Regions from separate parts of the Homo sapiens genome. Here regions 2 and 3 are each linked to region 1. The links come from fine-mapping of genetic effects on gene expression. A gene starts in region 1. Each other region holds a variant in brackets. All regions are shown on one strand. Distances are between the middles of the regions. Region 1 holds the start of CLEC4E (C-type lectin domain family 4 member E). Region 2 holds the start of LOC124902872 (a long non-coding RNA gene). Region 3 overlaps CLEC4D (C-type lectin domain family 4 member D).

Evidence for each region. PIP is the estimated chance that this variant, and not a neighbour inherited with it, causes the effect.
Region 2: its variant is fine-mapped to the expression of CLEC4E in whole blood (TOPMed, PIP 0.99).
Region 3: its variant is fine-mapped to the expression of CLEC4E in whole blood (TOPMed, PIP above 0.99).

What each region holds. Positions count from the first base shown.
Region 1 is chr12:8,535,980-8,544,280 of GRCh38, reverse strand. CLEC4E (C-type lectin domain family 4 member E) reads left to right here and starts at 3,376. Exons shown (of 6, transcript NM_014358.4): 1 at 3,376-3,520; 2 at 4,334-4,426; 3 at 4,975-5,064; 4 at 7,015-7,166; 5 at 8,076-8,191. The coding sequence starts at 3,484.
Region 2 is chr12:8,562,862-8,571,162 of GRCh38, reverse strand. LOC124902872 (a long non-coding RNA gene) reads left to right here and starts at 3,227. Exons shown (of 3, transcript XR_007063203.1): 1 at 3,227-3,669; 2 at 4,938-6,435. It overlaps LOC105369645 (a long non-coding RNA gene), which reads right to left and starts at 6,672. Exons shown (of 4, transcript XR_007063201.1): 1 at 6,582-6,672; 2 at 6,347-6,493; 3 at 6,147-6,240; 4 at 5,090-5,640. RefSeq lists enhancers at 5,883-6,514, 7,149-7,781. The variant C/A (reference allele first, on the strand shown) is at 4,971.
Region 3 is chr12:8,514,016-8,522,316 of GRCh38, reverse strand. It overlaps CLEC4D (C-type lectin domain family 4 member D), which reads right to left. Exons shown (of 6, transcript NM_080387.5): 2 at 6,989-7,081; 3 at 4,043-4,153; 4 at 3,157-3,308; 5 at 1,976-2,091; 6 at 1-1,193. The coding sequence ends at 1,046. Among named protein-coding and RNA genes, the nearest start is that of CLEC4D, 4.7 kb to the right of the region's middle. The variant T/C (reference allele first, on the strand shown) is at 3,935.

The sequences.
Region 1 (8,301 bases):
TGAAAACTCATAACATCCTATTTATATCATATCATCATTCCAACAAGAAATGAAATGCACAGAATTCCCTCCTTGAATAGAAAGGAGATACTCAAGAATGTGAAATGGGGTTACCCAATGCATGCACAGTCAGGTGGCTGACAGGTCACCATAAATTTGGTTCCCCTGAGGAGTTGGCTAAACCTATAGCTGAATAGGCCCCTCTCTCTGGTCAGCTGTCAAGGCAGCAGTGTGGCTTACAGATAGATGGCAGTTCAAGGGTAAAGGGCTGGCCGTCAACCTGGGAAGCAGCAGCCCTGGGATCAGTTAGTGATTGCATGTTAGATGAAAAGACAAAAAATAAATCTGCCCCAAGGCTAAAATTGAGTGATGTTTCTCTTGGCATCAAAGAAAAGTAGATACTAACAATACTCGTATGGCATAGATGTTTACAGCTTTTACTGATTCTTTTTCAGTTGCCTGAAATATTGACAGGCAATATAGTTTAGAAAAGGGACTTAGACGATAAGTTCCTGGATGATATTTAAAAAGGGAAATCAAAGAATCTATTGCTGAACAACAGGTGCTGGAGAGGATGTGGAGAAATAGGAATGCTTTTACACTGTTGGTGGGACGTAAACTAGTTCAACCATTGTGGAAGTCAGTGTGGAGATTCCTCAGGGATCTAGAACTAGAAATACAATTTGACCCAGCCACCCCATTACTGGGTATATACCCAAAGGATTATAAATCATGCTGCTATAAAGACACATGCACACGTATGTTTATTGTGGCACTATTCACAATAGCAAAGACTTGGAACCAACCCAAATGTCCATCAATGATAGACTGGATTAAGAAAATGTGGCACATATACACCATGGAATACTATGCAGCCATAAAAAATGATGAGTTCATGTCCTTTGTAGGCACATGGATGAAGCTGGAAACCATCATTCTCAGCAAACTATCGCAAGAACAAAAAACCAAACACCGCATGTTCTCACTCATAGGTGGGAATTGAACAATGAGAACACTTGGACCCAGGAAGGGGAACATCACACTCTGGGGACTGTTGTGGGGTGGGGGGAGGGGGGAGGGATAGCATTAGGAGATATACCTAATGCTAAATGACGAGTTAATGGGTGCAGCACACCAGCATGGCACATGTATGCATATGTAACAAACCTGCACGTTGTGCACACGTACCCTAAAGCTTAAAGTGTAATAAAAGATAAATAAAAATAAATAAAAATTAATCCCCCCCCCCAAAAAAGAAATCATTAAGCATGGTCAACTTTAGAAGAATGCACTAAGGATAGTTAAGAAGGCTTTTACTTGTCACATGCTTTTCATAGTATTAATCATAAAACATATTACTCGTATAATTTGGGGAAAATCAATGAAACAAAAGATATAAAAACATTTTGGCTGGAAAAAATATTAATTTATTGATTTCTGTTTAATTGTATATTGATAAAAATTAACATACAATTGTTTAGTAATATTGATGGTTGCTGGTTGATTGTAATTAATAAAAGATGGACTGTGGTAATTATGTTCATCATTTTATAATTCATATAGCTCATCCACTAGATAGTTTCTCTTTTTTTACTGATCAAAAGCTATTTGCTGAGAATACACATATTAAATATGGGTATATTCTATAATATACACATATATAATTTAAAGATATTTTTAAAATTGTATTACTATAAAACAGAGAATGCAGAGAAAATTGACCAGTACCTTGAAATAATAAAAAGTCCCTTTGAGAACAAGAATATTTTCTCACACATGGAAAATTCGTGAGTCACTGGATGTGGGGATTTACCAAGTCATGTACATCATACTTATGCCTCCTGACTCGTGAACTTAAATAAACTGAGACCAGTGTGATCTTATTCTTAAGTATCTTTAAGTAAGGAGAAGGCACATATCTAACTATTCTTCCAGAGAAGCATTAATTCTTTTTTTTTTTTTTTTTTGAGACAGAGTCTCACTCTATCGCCCAGGCTGGAGTGCAGTGGTGCAATTTTGGCTCACTGCAACCTCTGCCTCCCAGGATCAAGCTATTCTCCTGTCTCAGCCTCTCAAGTATCTGGAATTACAGATGCGTGCCACCACACTTGGCTAATTTTTGTATTTTTAGTAGAGGTGGGGTTTCACCATGTTGGCCAGGCTGGTCTCAAACTCCTGACCTCAAATGATCCACCCACCTTGGCCTCCCAAAGTGTTGGAATTACAGGCATGAGCCACTGCTCCCGGCCCAGAGAACCATTAAATTCTAATATCTAATTGAAATTGCTTTTTCTGACCTTCAAATACATTTCTCCTACTGTAGGCTGTAACATAGAACTAAAATCCCCAAATAATTGAGAACAGGAGAATTAAACTGCCTGCTGGGTCTCTGAGACTTCAGAAGCTGCGTTATGTTGTGAAAAACTAAGCTGAGTTTCAAAGTGGTCTAATCACATGAGGCTGTCCTGCTGAGGGGGACTCTAGTAGTCAGCCTAGTAGTAGCAGCCTAGTAGTCAGCATAAGATAAGAGGGACATAAATCCACAACATTAGAATATTCAAGAGCTGCAAATGAAGAAGAAAGAAAAACCATAAAAGATGAAAAAGAGGACGGGCGCGGTGGCTCACGCCTGTAATCTCAGGACTTTGGGAGGCTGAGGCGGGCGGATCACGAGGTCAGGAAATTGAAACCATCCTGACGACCACAGTGAAACCCCGTCTCTGCTAAAAATACAAAAAATTAGCCAGGCGTGGTGGCGAGCGCCTGTAGTCCCAGCTACTCGGGAGGCTGAGGCAGGAGAATGGCTTGAACCCGGGAGGCGGAGCTTGCAGTGAGCGGAGATCATGCCACTGCACTCCAGCCTGGACGACAGAGCGAGACTCTGTCTCAAAAAAAAAAAAAAAAAAAAAGATGAAAAAATTCAGGTTGCCATGTCCTAAATACATACACTATATGCCCAGCTTTGTGCTATGTTGTCTAAGTCTTCTTTTCAGTTACCAAATGTGTGGATGGTACAGATCCAAAGTGAAATTCAGAGTGCAGAGGTGAGCTCCATATTGTCAAGGAAAAACTGGGGGATGAGTTATGCCTTGAAGAAACTAGAGACATTTGGTCCAACGAAACGAAACAACATTTAAAAAAAAAACTCTCCTGTTTCCCCATGGCTAGCCTATTTGTGTTGATGCTTACCATTTCATAATTTCCTCATTTTGTTGTTACATGGAGTGAAGAGAACTGACATGCTGTCCAATAAACTTCCTTGTCCTCCTTATGCAAGAAAGGAAATCCTGACTTAATGCGTAGCCACAGAACAAGTTAATATTCTACATCTATCGGAGCTGAACTTCCTAAAAGACAAAGTGTTTATCTTTCAAGATTCATTCTCCCTGAATCTTACCAACAAAACACTCCTGAGGAGAAAGAAAGAGAGGGAGGGAGAGAAAAAGAGAGAGAGAGAAACAAAAAACCAAAGAGAGAGAAAAAATGAATTCATCTAAATCATCTGAAACACAATGCACAGGTAAAATCTGCAACTCTTCCTTTCCTTCCATAGATCTCTTTTTGGAACAAGTGATAAATATGGTGAAAGACAGGACAATAGAAAAGTATTCACTGAAGTTAAAAAAAAAAGTGGGGGGACAGAGGAAGAGAGAGAGAGAGATTTAAAGACTATTTCTTATACCAGAAAGCCTGCTGGCCTCTAGCTAAGGGAGAGCTATCAGTTTCCACCCTTTCTGCAATACATTGTGTCCCTTTTGGCAAGTCACTTCACTTCTCTGGAACTCTCTTTGTCTGTAAAATGTTTAATGGGAGGAAGAGAGGAACTATTAGATGACTGTTAACATTTTACCTAATTTACAAAGCGCTTGAAAAGTGAGACACAGAAAAAAAAAAAAGATCAGGAGAAGGACAAGAAAAGCAAAGACGAGAAAAGGGAAAAGAAAGAAAAAGAAAGAAGGGGGGCCTTAGAAAATACTGAAAAAAATTTAACTGAGAGACTTAGAAAGGAAAAATTGTATATCTGAGTTCATGAGTCAGAGTCTTACTCCAGGGGTGCTAAACGTGTGGTCCTCAGACCAGCAGCAGCAGTAGCCCCTGGGAACTTGTTGGTTCCATACAAACTCTACTGAGTTGCTAACTCTGGGGGTAAGGGTCAGCAATCTGTGTTTCCATAAACCCTCCAAGTGATTCTGAAGCATGCTGAAATTTGGGAATTACTCAGTACAAACAATGGAAGTAGAAGGAAATAAGTAAGGATGAATAAGAATCTCTTCTATCTCTTTTGTACCTTGCTTAGGGAAGATTGATCATGTTTGTGTCTTTCTTTCTACAGAGAGAGGATGCTTCTCTTCCCAAATGTTCTTATGGACTGTTGCTGGGATCCCCATCCTATTTCTCAGTGCCTGTTTCATCACCAGATGTGTTGGTGGGTTCTGAAGGTCAAATTCAATTTAATTCTTCCTGGTGCATATTAGGAGAAAACTCTTCCATGCTGCCTGTAGACTCTCTTTGCCCTCAAAGGGTCTTTCTATTTCACCCTTTTTTTTTTCCCTATTAATCTCTAGGTTATTTCTCAAACCAGAAACCTCAACAAGCAGGGAACTGTTTCTGAATTTTAATCACCTGTGACTTACTTTTCATGATAGACATTTTTCACTTCCTTGGCAGTCCTGAATCCTCCTCTTTCAGCCTCTATCATTAGTGTAACCTTCTCTAGGAGAGTCTGCCTTAGAGCTTGAACTACTGGTCGGCACCAGAGATATGACTAATTACTTTTGGAAGGAAGGGTAGAGAGAGTTGGACTTGGCATAAGAGGTAGTGCAAACATATCTATTTTCTCTGGGTCGTAAGAAAAAGCAGATTGTAAGAAAAAACATGATAATTATTGGCACTTTTGTTATAAATACAAAACTGAGGGAACTGACATTTTTAACCGAAATAAGACTAACAAACATTATGCCCTTTCTTTTACAGTGACATTTCGCATCTTTCAAACCTGTGATGAGAAAAAGTTTCAGCTACCTGAGAATTTCACAGAGCTCTCCTGCTACAATTATGGATCAGGTATAATAGTCCCAAAGGTGAACATCAAAATTTACAAAGCAACATTTTCTGGCTTCTAGATTGACTTTGGGACAGGTGAGATATAGCTGGATTAGGTCTTATTTTTCAAAAGCAAAATGTAAAATCCTAGAAATTTGGTGATGCAATTAGCATTGGGGCAGAAAGTCTTGGGGACATTATAGTAAACTTTTAGAATAAATTTGAGGGGTATGTCTGAACAGTAAATCTGGAAGTGGAAGGTATTATTCCCAGGAGTGTACCTTTTTTTTCATTCACCTACTTCCAAAATGAGATGGAGAAAAAACGTATGGAGTAGAGAATTTATAAATATCTCACAAATATACTCTCTATGCTCTTCTATGTCATCCTGTTGCAAGTCCTAGCAAAATGCTACATGACACTAAAAAAGTGACTTCCTTCTCTGAGCTATAATTTTCTCACCATTAAATTGAGAGAAGTTAGAAGAATTATTTATAATAGACCTCAAAGGCAAAAGTTCTGTAATTCTAAGAAATCTAACTGTAGGGACCAGCCCCACAGGGTTGGTGGGTCTCTCCCTGTGTCCAGAGACGAGAGCATGTAGAAATAAAGACACAAGACAAAGAGATAAAAGAAAAGGCAGCTGGGCCCAAGGGACCACTACCACCAATGCGCGGAGACCGGTAGTGGCTCCGAATGTCTGGCTGCGCTGTTATTTATTGGATACAAGGTGAAAGGGGCAGGGTAGAGAGTGTGAGTCATCTCCAATGATAGGTAAGGTCATGTGGGTCACGTGTCCACTGGACAGGGGGACCTTCCCTGCCTGGCAGCCGAGGCAGAGAGGGAGAGGAGACAGAGAGAAAGACAGCTTACGCTATTATTTCTGCATATCAGGGACTATTAGTACTTTCGCTAATTTACTACTGCTATCTAGAAGGCAGAGCCAGGTGTACAGGATGGAACATGAAGGCAGACTAGGAGTGTGACCACTGAAGCACAGCATCACAGGGAGACGGTTAGGCCTCCGGATAACTGCGGGCAAGCCTGACTAATGTCAGGCCCTCCACAAGAGGTGGAGGAGCAGAGTCTTCTCTAAACTCCCCCAGGGAAAGGAAGACTCCCTTTTCCTGTCTGCTAAGTAGCGGGTGTTTTCCCTTGACACTTAACGCTACCGCTAGACCACAGTCTGTCTGCCTGGCCACGGGCGTCTTCCCAGACGCTGGCGTCACCGCTAGACCAAGGAGCCCTCTGGTGGCCCTGTCCGGGCATAACGGAAGGCTCGCACTCTTGTCTTCTGGTCACACCTCACTATGTCCCCTCAGCTCGTAGCTCTGTACGGCCTGGTTTTTCCTTGGCTATGATTATAGAGCGAGGATTATTATAATATTGGAATAAAAAGTAATTGCTACAAACTAATGATTAATGATATTCATATATAATCATATCTAAGATCTATATCTGGTATAACTATTCTTGTTTTATATTTTATTATACTGGAACAGCTCGTGTCCTCTGTCTCTTGCCTCAGCGCCTGGGTGGCTTGCCGCCCACATCTAACCCATCTATATACTACAGTATGGAGATTTGATTGAGGATACATTGTTTAGGTAACATAAGAGATGGCTCTTTGGGGGTCACCCAAATAAAATGCATAAATTTCTCTGACATTAGTAGTCTAAGAACAGATAATAAGGTTCTATATCAATAGCATAACTAAGATAGTTTGCATATATAGTTGCATTTCCTGGCACTGACATCCAGAGAATGAGAATTACGTTCAAAAGACCAAAAACATTCTGTTTATGTTTCTTGACATTGGAATTATCTAAAGTCTTAGATACTAAGATGTAGGGTATGAACAAGTGATTCCAAGGCTTCTGACTTAAATGAGGACTCCATGGGGCCAGATGAAGCTTTGGGTTTTCTTATTCGGTTCACCTGGGACACTCACTGAAACATCTCTCATCCTAGGTTCAGTCAAGAATTGTTGTCCATTGAACTGGGAATATTTTCAATCCAGCTGCTACTTCTTTTCTACTGACACCATTTCCTGGGCGTTAAGTTTAAAGAACTGCTCAGCCATGGGGGCTCACCTGGTGGTTATCAACTCACAGGAGGAGCAGGTAGCTGGAGTCCTCCGATGCCAATGTAACATTCCCGACATGGTCCACCTCTCTTTTCATACATATGCACAGTGCTTGACCCCCAATGACTATTGTTAATGAATGTACTAAAATGCATGCTGTTCTTACTATTTCGGTAAAGTCACTGCCTACCTTAATTTATTTTCCTTCCTAGAAGAACCTAAGAAAAAGGGAATTTCCATGTGGAGTTCCTTTAGTTAGGCAAGGGGAAAAAGAGGGTTGGAAGTGTTAATTTTAGACGAATCGTTATGTTTATGAACATATTATATGAAAGAAGAGAAGCAAATATTGTCCGTTTTCTTTAAGCTGTGATTAATAATATTTTGCGCTAGATATATTCAATAAATTTGGCCACCAATAATAGTAGATAAACTTTGAAAGAATTATTGAGGATCTCCTTTTCTGTTGAAGGTTATTTTTTCAGTTTAATTTTATGTTATGTATATTTTACCACAAAAAAAAATCAGTAGATAATCCTCATGATCTTACAGTTTCACTTATCTGTTATTTCTCATCCAGATTCTTTTTTACTTTTTGAGATGGAGTCTTGCTGTGTTGCCCAGGCTGGAGTGCAGTGGCGCAATCTCGGCTCACTGCAACCTCTGCCTCCCAGGTTCAAGCGATTCTCCTGCCTCAGCCTCCCAAGTAGCTGGGACTACAGGCACCCGCCACCATGCCTGGCAAATTTTTTTATACTTTTAGTAGAGACAGGGTTTCGCCATGTTGGTCAAGCTGGTCTTGAACTCCTGACCTCAGGTGATCCACCCGCCTCGGCCTCCCAAAGTGCTAGGATCTCATCCAGATTCTTACCTCTTTGAATAATAATTACTAGCAACGTTTATTCAAAACTAAAATAACTGATCTCCTTTTATTTTGTATCTTCCATAGGAATTCCTTTCCTACAAGAAACCTAAAATGAGAGAGTTTTTTATTGGACTGTCAGACCAGGTTGTCGAGGGTCAGTGGCAATGGGTGGACGGCACACCTTTGACAAAGTCTCTGAGGTAATTACCCTCCTATTGAGAGGAGTTCTTGAAACCTCCTTCTGTTACCTGCAATAGATCAGGTCCATTATTGGTGGTGGTATTAAATGCAGGAAAGAGAAGAGCTAAGG
Region 2 (8,301 bases), 27 kb before region 1:
TAATTGGAGTATGGAGTGTGAAGGAACATATTCACATATATGACAAAACTACAGATTTTTCTTTTTTTTTTATTGAGATGGAGTCTTGCTCGCATCGCGCAGGCTGGAGTGTAGTGGCACGATCTCGGCCCACTGCAACCTCCACCTTCTGGGTTCAAGCGATTCTCCTTCCTCAGCCTCCTGAGTAGCTGGGATTACAGACATGTGCTACCACACCTGGCTCATTTTTGTATTTTTAGTAGAGAGGGGTTTTGCCATGTTGGCCAGGCTGGTCTTGAACTCCTGACCTCAGGTGATCCACCCACCTTGGCATCCCAAAGTGCTAGGATTACAGGTGTGAGCCACCGTGCCTGGCCAAGGTACAGATTTATATAAAATTTAGCTCTCAGCTTCTTCGAAACCAAAACATATGATAATTTTTTTAAAAAAATGCTTTACATTGTTCTTGTATAATGTAAGGAAACATATCAGCTCATGTGAGAGACTGCCTTCTAACTTTGAGGGGATTTTTTCATATATACATTTTTTCACATATATATGTATATATATACACGTGTATATCACGTATACACACACACACACACACACACACACACACACACACACATATATATATATATATATATACATACATTTTTCAGATGGAGTCTTGCTCTGTCACCCAGGATGGAGTGCAGTGGTGTGTTCTTGGCTCACTGCAACCTCACTGCAAGTAACTCTCCTGCCTCAGCCTCCTGAGTAGCTGGGATTACATGCATGCGCCACCTCACCCAGCTACTTTTTATATTTTTAGTAGAGACGGGGTTTCACCATGTTAGCCAGGCTGGTCTCTAACTCCTTACCTCAGGTGATCTGCCCACTTCAGCCTCCCTGAAGTGTTAGGATTACAGGTGTGAGCCACTGCACCCGGGTCACCCACTATAAATATTTTCGTAAGAACAATTTATAAACAATATCTGTCACAGCAGTTAAAAAATGTATAATCTTCATATGGACAGCTAGCAAGTTCCCAGCTCTTTTCATGCCCCCAAAAGAGACTGCCTTATTGCCACACCAACCCAGGAAGGGCAAGCCAGAAAAATGACCGAGCCAATCTGACTCCATTATGCTGATATATTGATTCCTGGCAGATCTTGAATGCTTCAGGAGAAGAAAAAAAACCACATTAAGTTTTAGTACCATTTCTGCCACGGTATTTTCTCTCTGACCCTGGCCAAGTTGCATGTTTATTTCCTAGTTTTCTCATTGTGATAGGGACGCTATATCTCTATGTGTTCTCCTTTGCTTTCTTTCTTCTTTTTAACTTTTAATTAATATATAATAGATGAAGATGTTTTCAGGGTAAATGTGATTTTTTTGTTGTTTTTGTTTTGTTATTTTTGAGATAGGGTCTCACTCTGTTGCCAAGGCTGAAATGCAGTGGTGAGATCATAGCTCACTGCAGCCTCAAACTCCTGGACTCAAGTGATCTTCCTTTCTTGGCCTCCCAAGTAGCTAGGACCGCAGGCACATGCTACCATGTCTTTTGTGGAGACGGAGTCTTGCTATATTGCCCAGGTCAGTCTGAAACTCCTGGGCTCAAGCCATCCTCCTGCCTCAGCCTCCTAAAATGCTGGGTTACAGGCATGAGCCAACATGCCCGGCCCACATGTGATATTTTGATACAGTCATATAATGTGTAAAGATAAAACAGGGTAATTGGGATATCACCATCTTAAATAATTATTTTTTCTTTATGCTAGGAACATTTGAATTATTCTCTGCCAGCTATTTTAAAATGTACAATAGAGTATTGTTAACTATAGTCACCGGATTGATCTATCAAACACTAGATCTTATTTCTATCTAACTATATATTTGTACCCATTAATTAGCCTCTCTTCATCTCATCCTCCTTCCTACCCCTCCCAACCTCCAGTAACCATCATTCTACTCTCAATCTTCATCAGAACCACTTTTTTAGCTCCCACATATGAGCAACAACATGTGATATTTGTCCTTCTGTCCTTGGCTTATTTTATGTAACATAATGACCTCCAGTTCTATCCATGTTGCTTCAATTGCAGGATTTTATTCTGTTTCATGGCTTAATAATATTCCATTGTATATGTATACCACATTTTTACTTTTCTAATTTCAAATTTTTTAATTTTTTAGAGACAGGGCCTTGCTATGTTGCCCAGGCTGGTTTCAAACTCCCGGCCTCAAGCAATTTTCCCACCTTGGCCTCCCAAACTGCTGAGATTACAGGTGTGAGCCACTGAGCCAGCCCATATACCCCATTTTCTTGATCTATTGATGGATGCTGTGTCCAAACTCCATTTTCATTTTTCCCTAGACATGCAGCTGGACTGTTTCTTAGTCTTCTTCTTAGTCTTAGTTAGTTGGAGCCACATGACTGATTTTTGGTTAGCAGTGATGGCAGTAGCTGCTGCCATCACACTGCCTGCAGGAGGGGCTGCACACTCCAAGGAGCCCGTGGGAGCTGCGCCCCCTTCTGAGTTGAGGCCAGAGTTCCCTGGGTGTTGCTGCAGCTGCCAGAATGGTGGCTGCAGACCCAGGTCTCCTGCACGAAGGAGCCCCACCTCCTGGGCAAGGCTGCAGCTGTCCAAACTGCCACTGTGGATCTGAGCCTCCCTGTGCTCTTGGAGGGGGCCTGGAGCAGACAGGATCTGCCCTCCCAGGTGCAGCTGCAGCTGCCCCACCCATGGCTACAGACCTGGGCCTCCTAATCCACAGAACAGGCAGGAGCTGGGGACAAGTGGGACCCCCACCCCTTCTGAGTTGGTAGTGTGGGAGCTCCCCGGATGCCTCTGCAGCCACCCTCCCAGGTACAGGGCCAGGCATCTCTGCAGCCTTCACCTTCAGGCCTTGGGAAGGCCCCCCAGTCCCTGCAGGCTTGAGGGGATATGCTTCCACTGCCTGGCCTCTCTTCTCTCCCACCACCTGCTTCAATCTCGGGGTGGGGTTGCAGCTGAGCCAGGGACCAAAAATGGCAGTGGGGAGGTGCACAGATTCCTGGGTGGAAGGGGGCGGTCCCCAGTAAGGCCTCTCCTTCAGGCCAGGGAAGCCTTGAAGGCTGGGGGCCCAGCTGCCAGTCCCACAGACTGGAGCGGGGACATGTGGTATCTCCTCTAGGCCCACCCATGGCCAGTCATGGACCAATCGGCAGGCACTTCCTCCCATCTGAGGTCCATAAAAGCCTAGGGCTCAGCCAGAGTAAAGTAGAGGGCAGAGAAAAGCCCTGGGCTCAGCCAGAGAAGGGCAGAGGACAGAGGACTGAGAGAGGACTGGACAACCAGCTGCAAAGAGGAGCTACCTTCTCTGTGAGAGCTTCAGAGACCTGCAGAGACATTGAATGAACTGCCTGCAGAGAGGAGTCACCCTCTCCAAGGTCTTCGCTCTGCTAAGAACAGCAGACAATGGGGCAACCAGTGGGCAGAGAGGAGCTACCCTCTTCAGAGCCTCCTCTCTGCTGAGAGCTGGACACTTGATTGGATGATCTGCCTACAGAGAGGAGCAACCCACTGTGGATTTTCTCTGAGCTGTAACACTCAATAAAGCTCTTCTTTGTCTTGTTCACCTTCCACTTGTCTGCATAGGCAGGATTTGGCACCACTGGCAGTGACACTGTAACATTTTGGGGGCTCATCTGGGATCTCCAAAAGGGTAAGTAAAAGTGGATCTACTTTCTGTCCTTTCTTTTGGAGTCTCTAAACTCCACAATAGTCAAAATGAAAGAAAAATACCAGGCTTCTGTCAACCAGTTAAAAGCAACTAGTGCAGCTGCAGAACTTAAGACATGAAGGACAGGCTTGCTGGGGAGGGACACTGTCAATCCCCCATCAACCTCAGGTGTTGGGAATGTTGGCTTTGTTCTAACCCAATTTCCCTTCATGGAGGTCTAGCCATCTCATGGGACTGGAAGGAGGTCCTGGGGCAACTGAGGGTATCTGGCCAAGGCTACACTTTGGTGTTATTCAAAGGCTCCTGGACTAACTCCAGTCCCCAACTGCCCATTAGGGTGTCCGCACTAGGACCTTCAGCCTTTCCTATTGTTCTTTTCTTTCTTTCATGGCTATCATGGTTCCTATCTCTTTTATATACGATGTTAAATGTAAAGGATGTTGTTGCAAGCCAGAGATATTACTGGGTGGAATGAGCATTTGGCTTGGTCACCAAAGTGTAAGAGTAGCACAGATGTAGCAAAGTGTGTCTTGGTATCTGTATGTAAATTTGTGGTGAAAATGTTCTTGTAATTTACTTGGTTGCCAACTTAGTGCCAAGCACCTTGAGGCACAGAAGAGAAGCCTTGCCTCAGGAAGGAAGCTTTTCTGTAAACATGAGGGCAAAGGGTCCTAGGTCCCTTATGTGCAGGCCTTCTTTGCCTTGCATGTTAACCTGGATCTTTGCCAACATTGTAGGATTGATTCAGCCCTCCTAGTGGCCATCTCAGGAGAGGTTACAAGGGGCAATCCCAAGGAAATAGGGAAGCAAGCCCCAGAGATACCTCTAGGTACCTCTAGAAATCCTCATTTTAGGCAGGTGCCAGTCTCACTCCTGCCCCTACAACAGATGCCTGATGAATATGGCCCTGTTAAGATCCAGGTGCCCTTTTCTCTTCAGGATTTATTGCAAACTAAGGGGGATCTTGGCAGGTTTTCAGATGGCCCTAATAGGTATGTAGAAGCTTTCCAGAAATTAACCCAAGTAACATGGCATCCTGCCATGAGTTCAGTTGGCTATGAGAGTGCAGAGGTGAGCTCCATATTGTCAAGGAAAAACTGGGGGATGAGTTATGCCTTGAAGAAACTAGAGACATTTGGTCCAACAAAACGAAACAACATTTAAAAAAAACTCTCCTATTTCCCCATGGCCAGCCTATTTGTGTTGATGCTTACCATTTCATAATTTCCTCATTTTGTTGTTGCATGGAGTGAAGAGAACTGACATGCTGTCCAATAAACTTC[C/A]TTGTCCTCCTTATGCAAGAAAGGAAATCCTGACTTAATGCGTAGCCACAGAACAAGTTAAAAGTGAAATATCTACACAAATTATTTGGAATCCTTCTGTATGAGAAAGGAGATTTGTCTATTTTCCCACATTTATTCATTTATTGACATCAGTATAGACTCATGGATATTTGTTTTATGGTTGGTTTGTAATCCAATGCTACATTATTTATTTTGTTGTTCAAGTTGTTCCAGCTTTGGACTGGGAGCTCTTTCGATTGGCTTCTGTTTTCTACAGCTAAAATTAGTGAAGAGATAATCTTCTGTTATTTCATTTAACCTTCAACCCAACCTTATAAAAATGTCTTTTTGTTATTCTTGTTTTACAAATAAGGGAGCTGAGGTCGAGAGTTTAATTTATGCAGCTGTTGATTGGCAAAGCCAGGATTCGAATAAAAACAGTCTTTAACCAGCATGCTATGTTACTTTCTGTCAATGTCTTCATTCAAAGACCACCAGGAACACACCTGTAGTTAAACAAGTTGTGTTTTTTTTGCAGTGAGGGAAAATGCATGTACATCTCCCCCTTTTCTGTTTTTTGCATCAGGTTTTGTTGATTGAAGAGTACAAATGTGTGCAACAACGGATTTGTCAAGTGTGGTGGTCACTGCTCGCATTCTGGCTTTGCATCCTAGAATTAGTAAATAACATAAGACAAACATGAGTATAATTAGCAACATTCTTTTTCAATCAAGGAGTGACCCCTCCCCCAGGAGTGGGGGTCTGTCTATCCAGGAGAAATGATCTCGCACACCCTTCCATCCTAATATATGAATCTATTGTGAGTACACCATTTCACATTAAGCTCCAAATCGCTGTCAGATTTTTCTTTCATTTGGACAGAGCTATTAATGAGTCACGTAGTTACGCTATTCTTTATGGAGGAAAAGAGTGAATAACCCCTTTTCAGAATATCCTGATGAAGAGAACTTGAAACAACAGAGAATATCAGAGAGGATATGTCCGGTTCATTCTTTTAAGCTACAAATATTTTATTCTATATCAGGATAATCATGAGCATTGAACCCTGACTTCCTGGACTCAAATCCTGGCTTCCCCAAATACTACTTGTGTGACCTTAACTAAATTACTTAATCTGTCTATGCTGCAGTTTCCTTATCTGATTCTGCCACTTACTAGATGTGTGATTTTCAGCAAATCACTCAGTGTCTTGGAACGTTCCTCATCCTTGGGCGCTCCCCTTCGTCTTTGCAGCGCTTGCTTTCGTTGCCTGGCAACGGGACGCGACACCAGGATTGAGCGTTAAGTGCGTGCTTTGGACGAGCGCATTACTGAGGCGGTTTTGACCGTTGGGCCTTGTCATTTGCTAGACTCACCTGGGTCCCCAGTCAGTGCCCGGCTCCTCCTCCTCCACCTCCTCGGGGCGGCACCTGCGGGGCAGGGGGAGCCCCTTCCACAAACCCGGGTAGGAAAACCAAGGTGGAGCGTTGCCAGATTCAATACAGTACCACATGCGCCGTCAACTTTGAATTTCAGATAAACGAGTTACTTTTGAGTACAAATATAGTATCACACAAAGTTATTCGTTGGTTATCTGAAATTCAGAGTTACCTGGGCATGCTGTGTTTATTTGCTGAGTCTGGCACCCCGGCCCGGGCCGCCTCCCTGTCCACTCTGGCTGGGTCTCCCAGGCATGGGCAAGGGACCTCCTTCTACCTCCTGTGGCAACTTCTTCAGGCTGGAGGCAGCTGTCTCTGTGGAAAGGGGCTTTCGTATGTTGAGCCAAGATGCCTATTGATGTATATGACAAATCACACTTAAAACAGGAGAGATGGGTTATTCTCATCGTTCAAGGAAACAGGTGCTGAGCGAGATGGCAATCCTTGCCCGTGTCCTACCGATATGTCCACAATTCCCAGACAGGTCCTGGACTTGGGCCGACCCTTAGGAGGGAAATTTCATACGGAAAATTTTTATTTCTATAATCTATAGCTTTTAAAATTAATAAAATGTCGTTTAATGTCTCTTTGAATATGTTACTTATACTTATTTTCTATATTTTGTCTGTTTTTTTAAAAATAGTTTTTGAGTGTAAAGTATTTCATTTGTTGTATTTATTGTCTCATTTTCATGGTCTTGCAAACCAAAAATGAAGATTTCTTCCCAGGGCAATCAAGGAAGAAGACTTTCACTCAATTATCAGCTCCCAAAGTTGAACTTCGATTTAAGCTATTCCCTGCATTTTCTACATGAGAAAACATTAGAGATAATGGTCCCTTTCTCATGTTCATCTTTCTGGAGCAGCAGCAGGAGTCTGTTCCCATTTTTATGTTATTTCACTTCAAGTGACATTGAGATGTCTATGCAGTATTTGTGTCTTTGGATTATATCATACTGAAGAAATACAGTGAAGATACTGTGCTCTGAAGTCAGTTACTTTCCTCTGTGTGGTTAAGGCAGCAATGCCAACTCGATAGGGAATTAGGTTTATTTGTGCCACTTTGTTTTCAGTTTTAATGACTGTATTTACATATACATGCATACACATTCCTTTCCCCGCTGCTTTGTATTCCTTTCCCCAGTACAAAAGATGGCATACTGTGTGCAATTTCTGCACCTTGCTTTCTTCACTTCACCCTGTGTCCTGGAGTTCACACCCTACTTTACAGAGCTTCCGCATTCTCTTGTATATCTGCATAATAATCCATTGTGTTGCTCTGCCTCATCAGTCCTGAATTTGATGAATATTCAGATGGTGCTCCAGTTTGACTTTTGAAAATAATGGTGCAAATAACCATGTGCATCTGCCATTTCATATTTTTGCAAGCATATCTTTGTTTTGTTTTTGTTTCTGTTTGATACAGAGTCTTGCTCTGTCGCCCAGGCTGGAGTGCAGTGGCATTTTGTATCTTAAAGGTATTTTCTGACTTTCTTGTACCTGGAAGTCTACTTCTCTAGTAAGATTAGATAATTTTTTCTGAATTATTCTTTTAAATATGCTTTCCAGGTTGCTTATCTTTTCTTCTCTTCCAAGAATGCCTGTAAGTCATAGGTTTGGTCACTTTACATAATCCCATATTTCTTGAATTTTCATTTTTTAAAAATTCTTTTTTTCTTTATTTTTATTTGACTGAGTTAATTTGAAAGAGCAGTCTTCAGGCTCTGAAATTCCTTCTTCTGCTTGACCTAATCTATTATTAAAGCTTTCAAATATATTTTGAAAATCTTTAAGTGAATTTTTCATTTTTAGAACTTCTGTTTTTTAGATATCTATCTCTTCATCTCCTGGATTGCTTTCATGGTTTCTTTGTGTTGGTTTTCAAGCTTCTCT
Region 3 (8,301 bases), 22 kb after region 1:
GCAATTAATGTTTCATGCACCAGAAAAGCATAATTTCTGGTTGTCAAAACAATAACTTCCTTGCTAGTTCAAACTATAGTTATACAGCTCTAAAGAAACATTAACAATTTGTATAAATGGGTTGAAAATGTGATTATTTTCTATTCAAATTAATAATGCAAACACGAATACAATGTTACTTCAAACAATTAAGAAATTTTATCCAGTCGTTAGCTAAGTAATGAGGTCGAGTAATCCCCAGTAACTTCCTGTGATACCAAAGGGAATGTATGTTATCTCTAATGAAGCACACCTGGGTCTGTCATGAACTAACAATGTGAAGGTGAGCCCTTTGGCTTCTGGGGGATTTTATTTCCTCTGCTGTAGAATTGAAGGACTTTGTTTAAGGTGTCTTACAAAGACTTCTTGCTTTGCAAAAACGTGTTGGGTGGAGTAAGAAGTAAATTTTTAAAGGCATTTGGACTTTTTTTCTATCTGTAGAACAGCATAATTCAGAACTATTCCACACTGTTGTTCTGGAAAAATTTTCCTCATGCAATGTAATTGTAATGACTGACATTAAAAAGTCTGAAAATGAAACATCAAACAATAAAAATGTGGTTTCAAATCTTTAAAGTGCTTGCAATATTTGGGTTAAAAATGATGCACCACTACCAGTTAGAATATCCCATCTTTGAATTTTAAGAGCTAAGAGTCTGAGAAGGGGAAAAATGACAAAGAGATTGCATTATTCACGCTATTCTTCCATACATGCATTCAGTGCACACCAATTGAAAAGTAAACACCTTGAAATACTACTAAGAAAGCAAAGAAAGATTATTCCTTCCATCAAACACCATACAAAAACCACATTATCTACACACACACACACACACATACACACATGTTGTCTCGAATGAATCAAACAAAATAAAAAAGACCATTATGACTAAAAACGCTGTATGAACCAGCATGTTTTCTGTGTTCCAATGACGCACGTACATTCTGCCTTATTCTAATTGGTTTTTCTTTTCTCTTTCCATCACAAGGACCACTTTCTGAGTTTCTAGTTCAATGTTGTTCCAGGTATTTTACAAATCCTACTTGCTTCAAAGTTACAAGGAACATCATTCCAGGCCCATTTATCTTGGTTATAAACAAGAACAACACAGTTTTCTCCCTGAGAGTTGTCGGGTTCATTCTTATGCCAGAATCTGAAAGAACAACAACATAGATAGAGATTTATAGGTATATATAGACAATGTAGATTATAGGTGTAGATTAGATATAGATATATTAGGAGACAATTCAGAGAAATGTCCCTAGTGAACAGTTTAGAACTGCACTAATACTATACTCACTAGACACATGTAGCTACTGAGCACTTGAAATGTGGCTTCTCTGAATTGAAATGTGCTTTAAGTCTTAAGTGCTGTATTTTGAAGACTTAGTGCCAATGAAGAATGTCAAAGACCTCAGTAATAATTTTATAATGATCACATGTTGAAATGATAAGATTTGGATATATTGGGTTAAATACATTATTAATACGTTATTAAAATACATTTCACTTGCTTCTTTTTACTTTCTTAATATAACTAACAAAAAATTTTAAATTGCACATGTGGCTTTGCATTATATTTTTACTAAACGATACTGGCTTCAAGAAAGAAAATGACAAGATTTTGATTCTCTTTCAAAGAAAATTTTTATCGCTTATATTGTTTATTTAAATGTCAAGCCTAAAACAAATTTTATATCACTTCTATGCTATTCATTCTTTCATTATTGACATTGTGCAAATAAGAATACTGAAAATTGCATGCAAATTATAGGACCATTCTGGAACTGGGACATAGCATATGGAGATTACTCAACCTACAGTGGTCTCTCTTAACATTTTTATATCAATGTACTCCACTTCAAAATGAATGTTTCTTGCTACCATCTTCTAACCTTTGCTTATAAATCCCCTTAGCCCACTCAATATACTTACACTCTGCGTGGGTTAAATGGCGTCTGGTCCACCCAACGCCACTGACCTTTGGCATTCTCATCTCTAAGTCCAAGGAAATAGGAAAGCCGTCTATCCAGAAACTGAATAATAAAGTTCTGCATAAAAATGTAAATTTTAATATAGTTGCATGAATCAGGTGATGGCTATGATGTTGGAAAAAGAGGAAATATGTCAACTAGATTACTGGTTAAGCACAAAAGCTCTGGCATCAGATAGATCTGTTTTCAAATCCTGCCTGTAATGTTAGTAAGTGCTTCAATCTTACCAAACCCCCAGTGCTCTTGTCTTCAAAAGGGACAACTCCACTACTTTATAGAGTTACTAGGAAGATTAAGTGAGGTCAGACTTGCAACCCTTTTAGCACAATGCTTAATAAGATTAGATTTTTTAGGAGGTTTTGTTTTTAATATCTTCTTTAATTGCGTGCATATTTCATTAAATTCCATTTTATTCAGAATTACCGAACCTATACATTGTAAACCTATGGAGACAAAATCCTTGAGGAAACTATTAACCAAGAAAAAGTTAGAATCTGAGTCATGGTACATAAATGGAAACATATTACATGAGGAAATAAATTTTAGCCTTTAAAGAATTTACCCTAAGATTTCTTTACTTATCATTAGATCCATACATCTGAATTAGTTTTCCTGTACTTTATCCTGAGAAGCTAGTTCAGTCCTGATTAACCATTCATTTATTCACCTACTAACCAAACATTTATCAAGACCTATCCAGTGTGCCTCACACTGCACGGGACATTGGAAGCGCAAAGGTGAGTAGAGCATGGATCCAGCCCTCCACGTAGTAAAAGTCACTGGAAGAGATGGAGCAGTGAACAGACAATTATAGTGGAGTGAAGTAAATGCCATGATCTCGTTGTGCACAAAGTCCTACAGAAGTACTTCCCACTTAGAACAGGGAGGGGTAGAATGAGGAAGGTAGTTAGGGTAGCTTTCTGGAGGAAATAACATATGAATCAAATATAGAAAGACCAAAAGAAGTTGGCCATATGACAAAAAGTTGAAGAGGAAGAAAGGGCTTTCCAGGCAGATGGAGCAGATGAAAACAGACAGAGGCATAACAGGACAGAGAAATTCCTCTTTTTCTGGAAAGAGATTCAAAGCAGCAGAGAAACTGATGTGATCCTCCCAACACACCTGCTCAGCTTCCGTGCTGATGGTCATCAGATGGGCCCCCATCCCTGAACAGTTCCTTTCACTCTCAGCCCACGTCTTGTTGTCAGTAAGAGGAAAATAGCAGTTGGACTGGAAGGCTCTCCAGTCAATAGGACAACAGTTCCAGGTGCTCCCTCAAGTGAAAATTAAAACGGAAATTGGTAACAAAAGAGCATTTCATCTGTAACAGATTGCATAACTATTCTACTACCTATATCCAATTAATATTTGTGAGAATAATATCAAGATCACCAAAATTATTCTGTTCTCCTACCAAAAGATCCTGAAAATTACATTCCTAAATATCTTCTAAACATAAGTACTGGACACCACATAATGACTACGAGAAAATCACAAAATATTGCCTTAGAAGGCATGACTGTTATTCATTGTTCCTACATCTGTTGACTTGCACATTTAAAGTGTTTCCATTACGAAGCTTTTGCAGGATATTTTACCTAAAGTGGGTAAAGAACCTACTAAAACTTAAGCACTGCCCCATTCTCCCAAATGAGATGACAAATTCCACAATAATAAAAGAAATAAAGACATGTCAGCAAAGCTGTATATTCTAGGAGGAAACTGTCTTTATCATATGTCTGAATCAAGGGAAAATTGAATCTGATTAATGTTATGTTTTGGATGTCAAAAATAACCCATCCATCTGTAAAGCTATATTCTCCGGTTATTAACTGGATTACAGTAATGAGAAATAATTCTATCTTAAGGTATTCTTATTTACTCCGATGCCAGATTCTCA[T/C]CTTATGCTATTTTAATCTTTCCTGGTTCACTACTGACATTCCTTCAGTCAGACTATGAATTTGAACGAAAATGGAAATTAAAAAAGAAATTATCTTACACTCTGTACCTTCAGCACTTTTCAGTTCTGATTTCTCTTTGATGCATTTGAGCTTTGCATGGTGCTCTAACTTGTGCACTCCTGTGCCTCTCTTACAGCGTGAAAAGTTGTGATGAGTCACTGTCAAGGATAAAAGCAAGTTAGGTTTCTTTTTCTATATAACCACTAATTAGGGAAATAGGGGCTGACCTTCCTAAATTTTCTCTTATCCTAATAATTAAGGCCCTCATATTCTCTTTTCTTTCTATGCAGCTTGTTTGTTTCAGCTCCAGGTGAATTGGTTGAAAGCAATTGTTGAAAATTAATATTTTTATTATCATATTGTCCTTTTTTTTTCTGAGACGGAGTCTCGCTCTGTCACCCAGGCTGGAGTGCAGTGGCGCGATTTCGGCTCACTGCAAGCTCCGCCTCCCGGGTTCACATCATTCTCCTGCCTCAGCCTCCCGAGTAGCTGGGACTACAGGCGCCCGCCACCACGTCCGGCTAATTTTTTCTGTTTTTAGTAGAGACGGGGTTTCACCTTGTTAGCCAGGATGGTCTTGATCTCCTGACCTCGAGATCCGCCTGCCTCGGCCTCCCAAAGTGCTGGGATTACAGGCGTGAGCCACCGCGTCCGGCCCGTTTTGTTCTTTACGGGAGAAGTTTTGCAAACTTTTATGTGCACATGCTTGCAAGCATGTTTTTCTATCAAAATTTGTGTTAGAATAGGGGTTTTTGGTGCGCGCTGGGTTGTATGAACCTTATGCATTTCTAAAATACTTTCACCTTGAAATATATAAACAAATGTACCCTTCCTGGACAGCACACACCGGGGCCTGTTGTGGGGTGGGGGGAGGGGGGAGGGATAGCATTTGGAGATATGCCTAATGTTAACTGATGAGTTACTGGGTGCAGCACACCAACATGGCACATGTATGCATATGTAACTAACCTGCACGTTGTGCACATGTACCCTAAAACTTAAAGTATAATAAAATAAATATAAATAAATAATAAAAAATAAACAAATGTAAAAAAGTGGAAAACAGTTTAGCAAATTATTGTAAGGTGAACACTCCAGGTAACAACTACTCAGCTCAAGAAACAGAATATTGCCAAAACCCCAGATAGCCTTCACATCTCAAAGGCAGCTCACTCCCTCGCCTTTATAGGTAACCACTCTCCTTTACAGGTAACCACTCTTGGCTTTTAAAGTAACCGCTGTGCTTTGCTTCACAATTTTGTCACTTACTAACATGTCCCTATAGATCAGATTTGCCTGTTTTTGAACGGCAATCACACAGTATGTATTCTGATTCTGTCTTTTGTTGAGAATTGTTTCTGAAATTTGTCTATTTTGTTACGTGCCCGCTATAATTCATCCATTGTCATTGCTGTAAAGTGAACTATTGTCTTCCTGAAACAAAATATATTTATCTATTCTACTCCTATTAGATGTGTGCCTTGTTTCCAGTGTTTGGCTACTGTGAACTATGCTCTTCTGAGCATTTTCAACCATGCATTTGGAGCACATAAGCATGCGTTTCTGTAGGGCACATACGTAGGAGTGGAACTGCAGGCAATAGCGTACGAATATTGTAAACTATGATAGCGGTAAACTTTTCCAGAGTGACTGTAATGCTTAAACTCCACCAGAAGCAATTCACTAGAGGTCCATTTGCTCCATGGCATCATCAATATTTAGTAGTGCCAGACTTTTTATTGTTGCCATCCTGTTATGTTTGCAAAGGTGTCTCACTGTGAGTTGCATTTGCATTTCCCTGATAATTAATTAATGAGGCTGGCACTTTTGTGTGTTTATTAGACATTTCATTTTTCTCTTTGTTTTAGTACCTATTTAAGACTTTGCCCAGTTTTTTTATTGTAAGTATTTTTCCTACTGGTTTGAAAAAATTTGTATATAATCTACATGTGAATTATTTATTAATTATATGCATTACAAGTATCTTCTCCTATGGCTTTTTATTTTCACTGTTACTGGTATGTTTTGTTGTACAGTAACTCATTTTAATGTAGTATAATTTGTCAATGTTTATTTTCTAGTGCATTTTGTGGCTTGTTTAAGAAATCGTTCTCTACCTCCAGGTCATGAGGATATTCTCCATTTATCTTCTTAAAACTTTATTGATTTACTTTTCACATTTTGGACAATAATCTGCTCTAGATTTGTTTTTGTATACAGTGTGATGCAGGAGACCAATTTCATCTTTTAAATATAAATAATCAATGGGCTCTGCAACATTAATTGAACAAAATTGTCCTTTTCCCATATGTCTGAGATATCTTCTTTTGTTTTATATAAAGAGTCTTATATACATGCAGGATCTGTAACCAAGCTCTCCTTTATTTTCCTCTAGTCTATTTGTCTTGCACCTATATCATATTACTTTAATTATAATTATTTTATGTTTGATATCAGAAAGAATTTTTTTAATGGTGGTGATGGTTTCAAGGGTGTATACTAATCCCCCAAATTGAGATGTATACATTAAATATGTACAGGTTTTCATATGTCAATCGTACATCAATAAAGAGGTTGAAAGAAAGGAAAAAAGAAAGAAAGAGAGGGAAAGAGAGAGAGAGAACAATTCTTCCAACCTTGTTCTTTTCAAAGCCAGTCTATCTGAAAGTTATTTTTCTTCTGCTTACTCTTTTCTCATAAGATGTATCCCTTTGTGATCCCAGTCCAAAATGGGGGGAAATTTGCTATAGTAACCAACTTTTACATGTACAGAAAATGGTCTAAATTCCATCAATCAATCTCTATCACAAGGTACCACCATTGAAAGACAGAAGGTCAAGAATGTAGCTCTGAATATTCAGTGCAAGACCCTGAAGATATTATAGATAGGTTATGCTAGGAAAAATCAAGATACCAAAAGGCTTAGAGCAACTTCAGAAAAGTTGTTTGGAAATAATAATTCAAGAAGAGTTCTACTTTGGCTAATAACTTACCCAAACAACTTGCAATAAAACAGACACTGAGAAGTAAGATGAAAACTACAGCAATAACCGAAGGTATCAGCTGGGGATGCATGCCTCCTTCCACTAGGACCAAAAGAAAAATAGAGATTAACCTCCTCTCAGCTACAAGCTAGGAAAGCTAATTCTACCAAGGAGCAATCTAAAAGTGACAGCAAACCAAATATTTCAGATCTAGAGAAGAGCATAAATATTTTCTCCAAATAAATCAATTTTAGAGCTTATTGATGAATAAATAAATAAGAAAGAAAAATGTAAAATTTCTTGGTAATTTTGAAATGAAAAGAATTTTATAAGTAAGATACAAAACCCAAGAGCCATTAGAATAGATAATTTGAGTACATAAAAATTAAAACTTCTATATAACACAAGCAATGTTAGAGTCAAGGAACGTATGAAAGGAAAGTCTTCTCATAATATTAATATCCGCACTGGATAAAGTATTTCAAAATCAACTAGAAAACTGAGCAAAACTCTGAGCAGGAAATTTGCTGAAATTTTAATTTGCTGAAGTTATAAATAGCCACTAATCAAACAAAAATATGCCCAATCAGGGAACTGTAAACGAAAAGATTGTGGTATAACTTTTCACACATCAGATTTTTTAAGTAAATTAAGTACATGCAGTGTTGGCAAGGCTGAGGGGAAATAAGCACTCTTAGTGAGAAAATAAATGCTGCTGCCTGGACTGGAAAATTAGGAATGCCTTTTAGAAGGATCAATTTAGTGGCATTTATCCATTTTTAAATGCATTTCATTTGCCACAATAATTTCAATTACAGGTGTCTATTCTATAGAAATAATTGAGCTTGTTTATGTTAAAAGATATTCATTGCAGTACTTCTCAAAATAGAAAACACATACTGTAATCTAATATTTACATGTATATTATCAATAGTGGAAATTCTAAATTATGGTCCCTTCACACAATGATATTCTGTATAGTAATTAAATAAGCATGTAATCAGTATATATTGATGCAAAAAATCTCTAAGAAATATTGTTACCTAAAAAGGTAATTCAATAGGATCACACTGTGATTACAGTTTGCCATGGTAGGGTGATGAGATAAAGTAAAACTTTAATTTTAATTTAAACATTTCCACACTTGTTCTATATATCTATCAAAAATATTATTTAATATTATCACAATACAAATCCACTGGTGTCACTTAAGTCAAACATAAAATGGGACAGTTAGAGCCTCTGATACAGCATAAGCCTAAATGCTTTTTCTACATCTTCCTTTTCTCTTTTTTCTTTAAAAGAATCTTCTCATATTACTC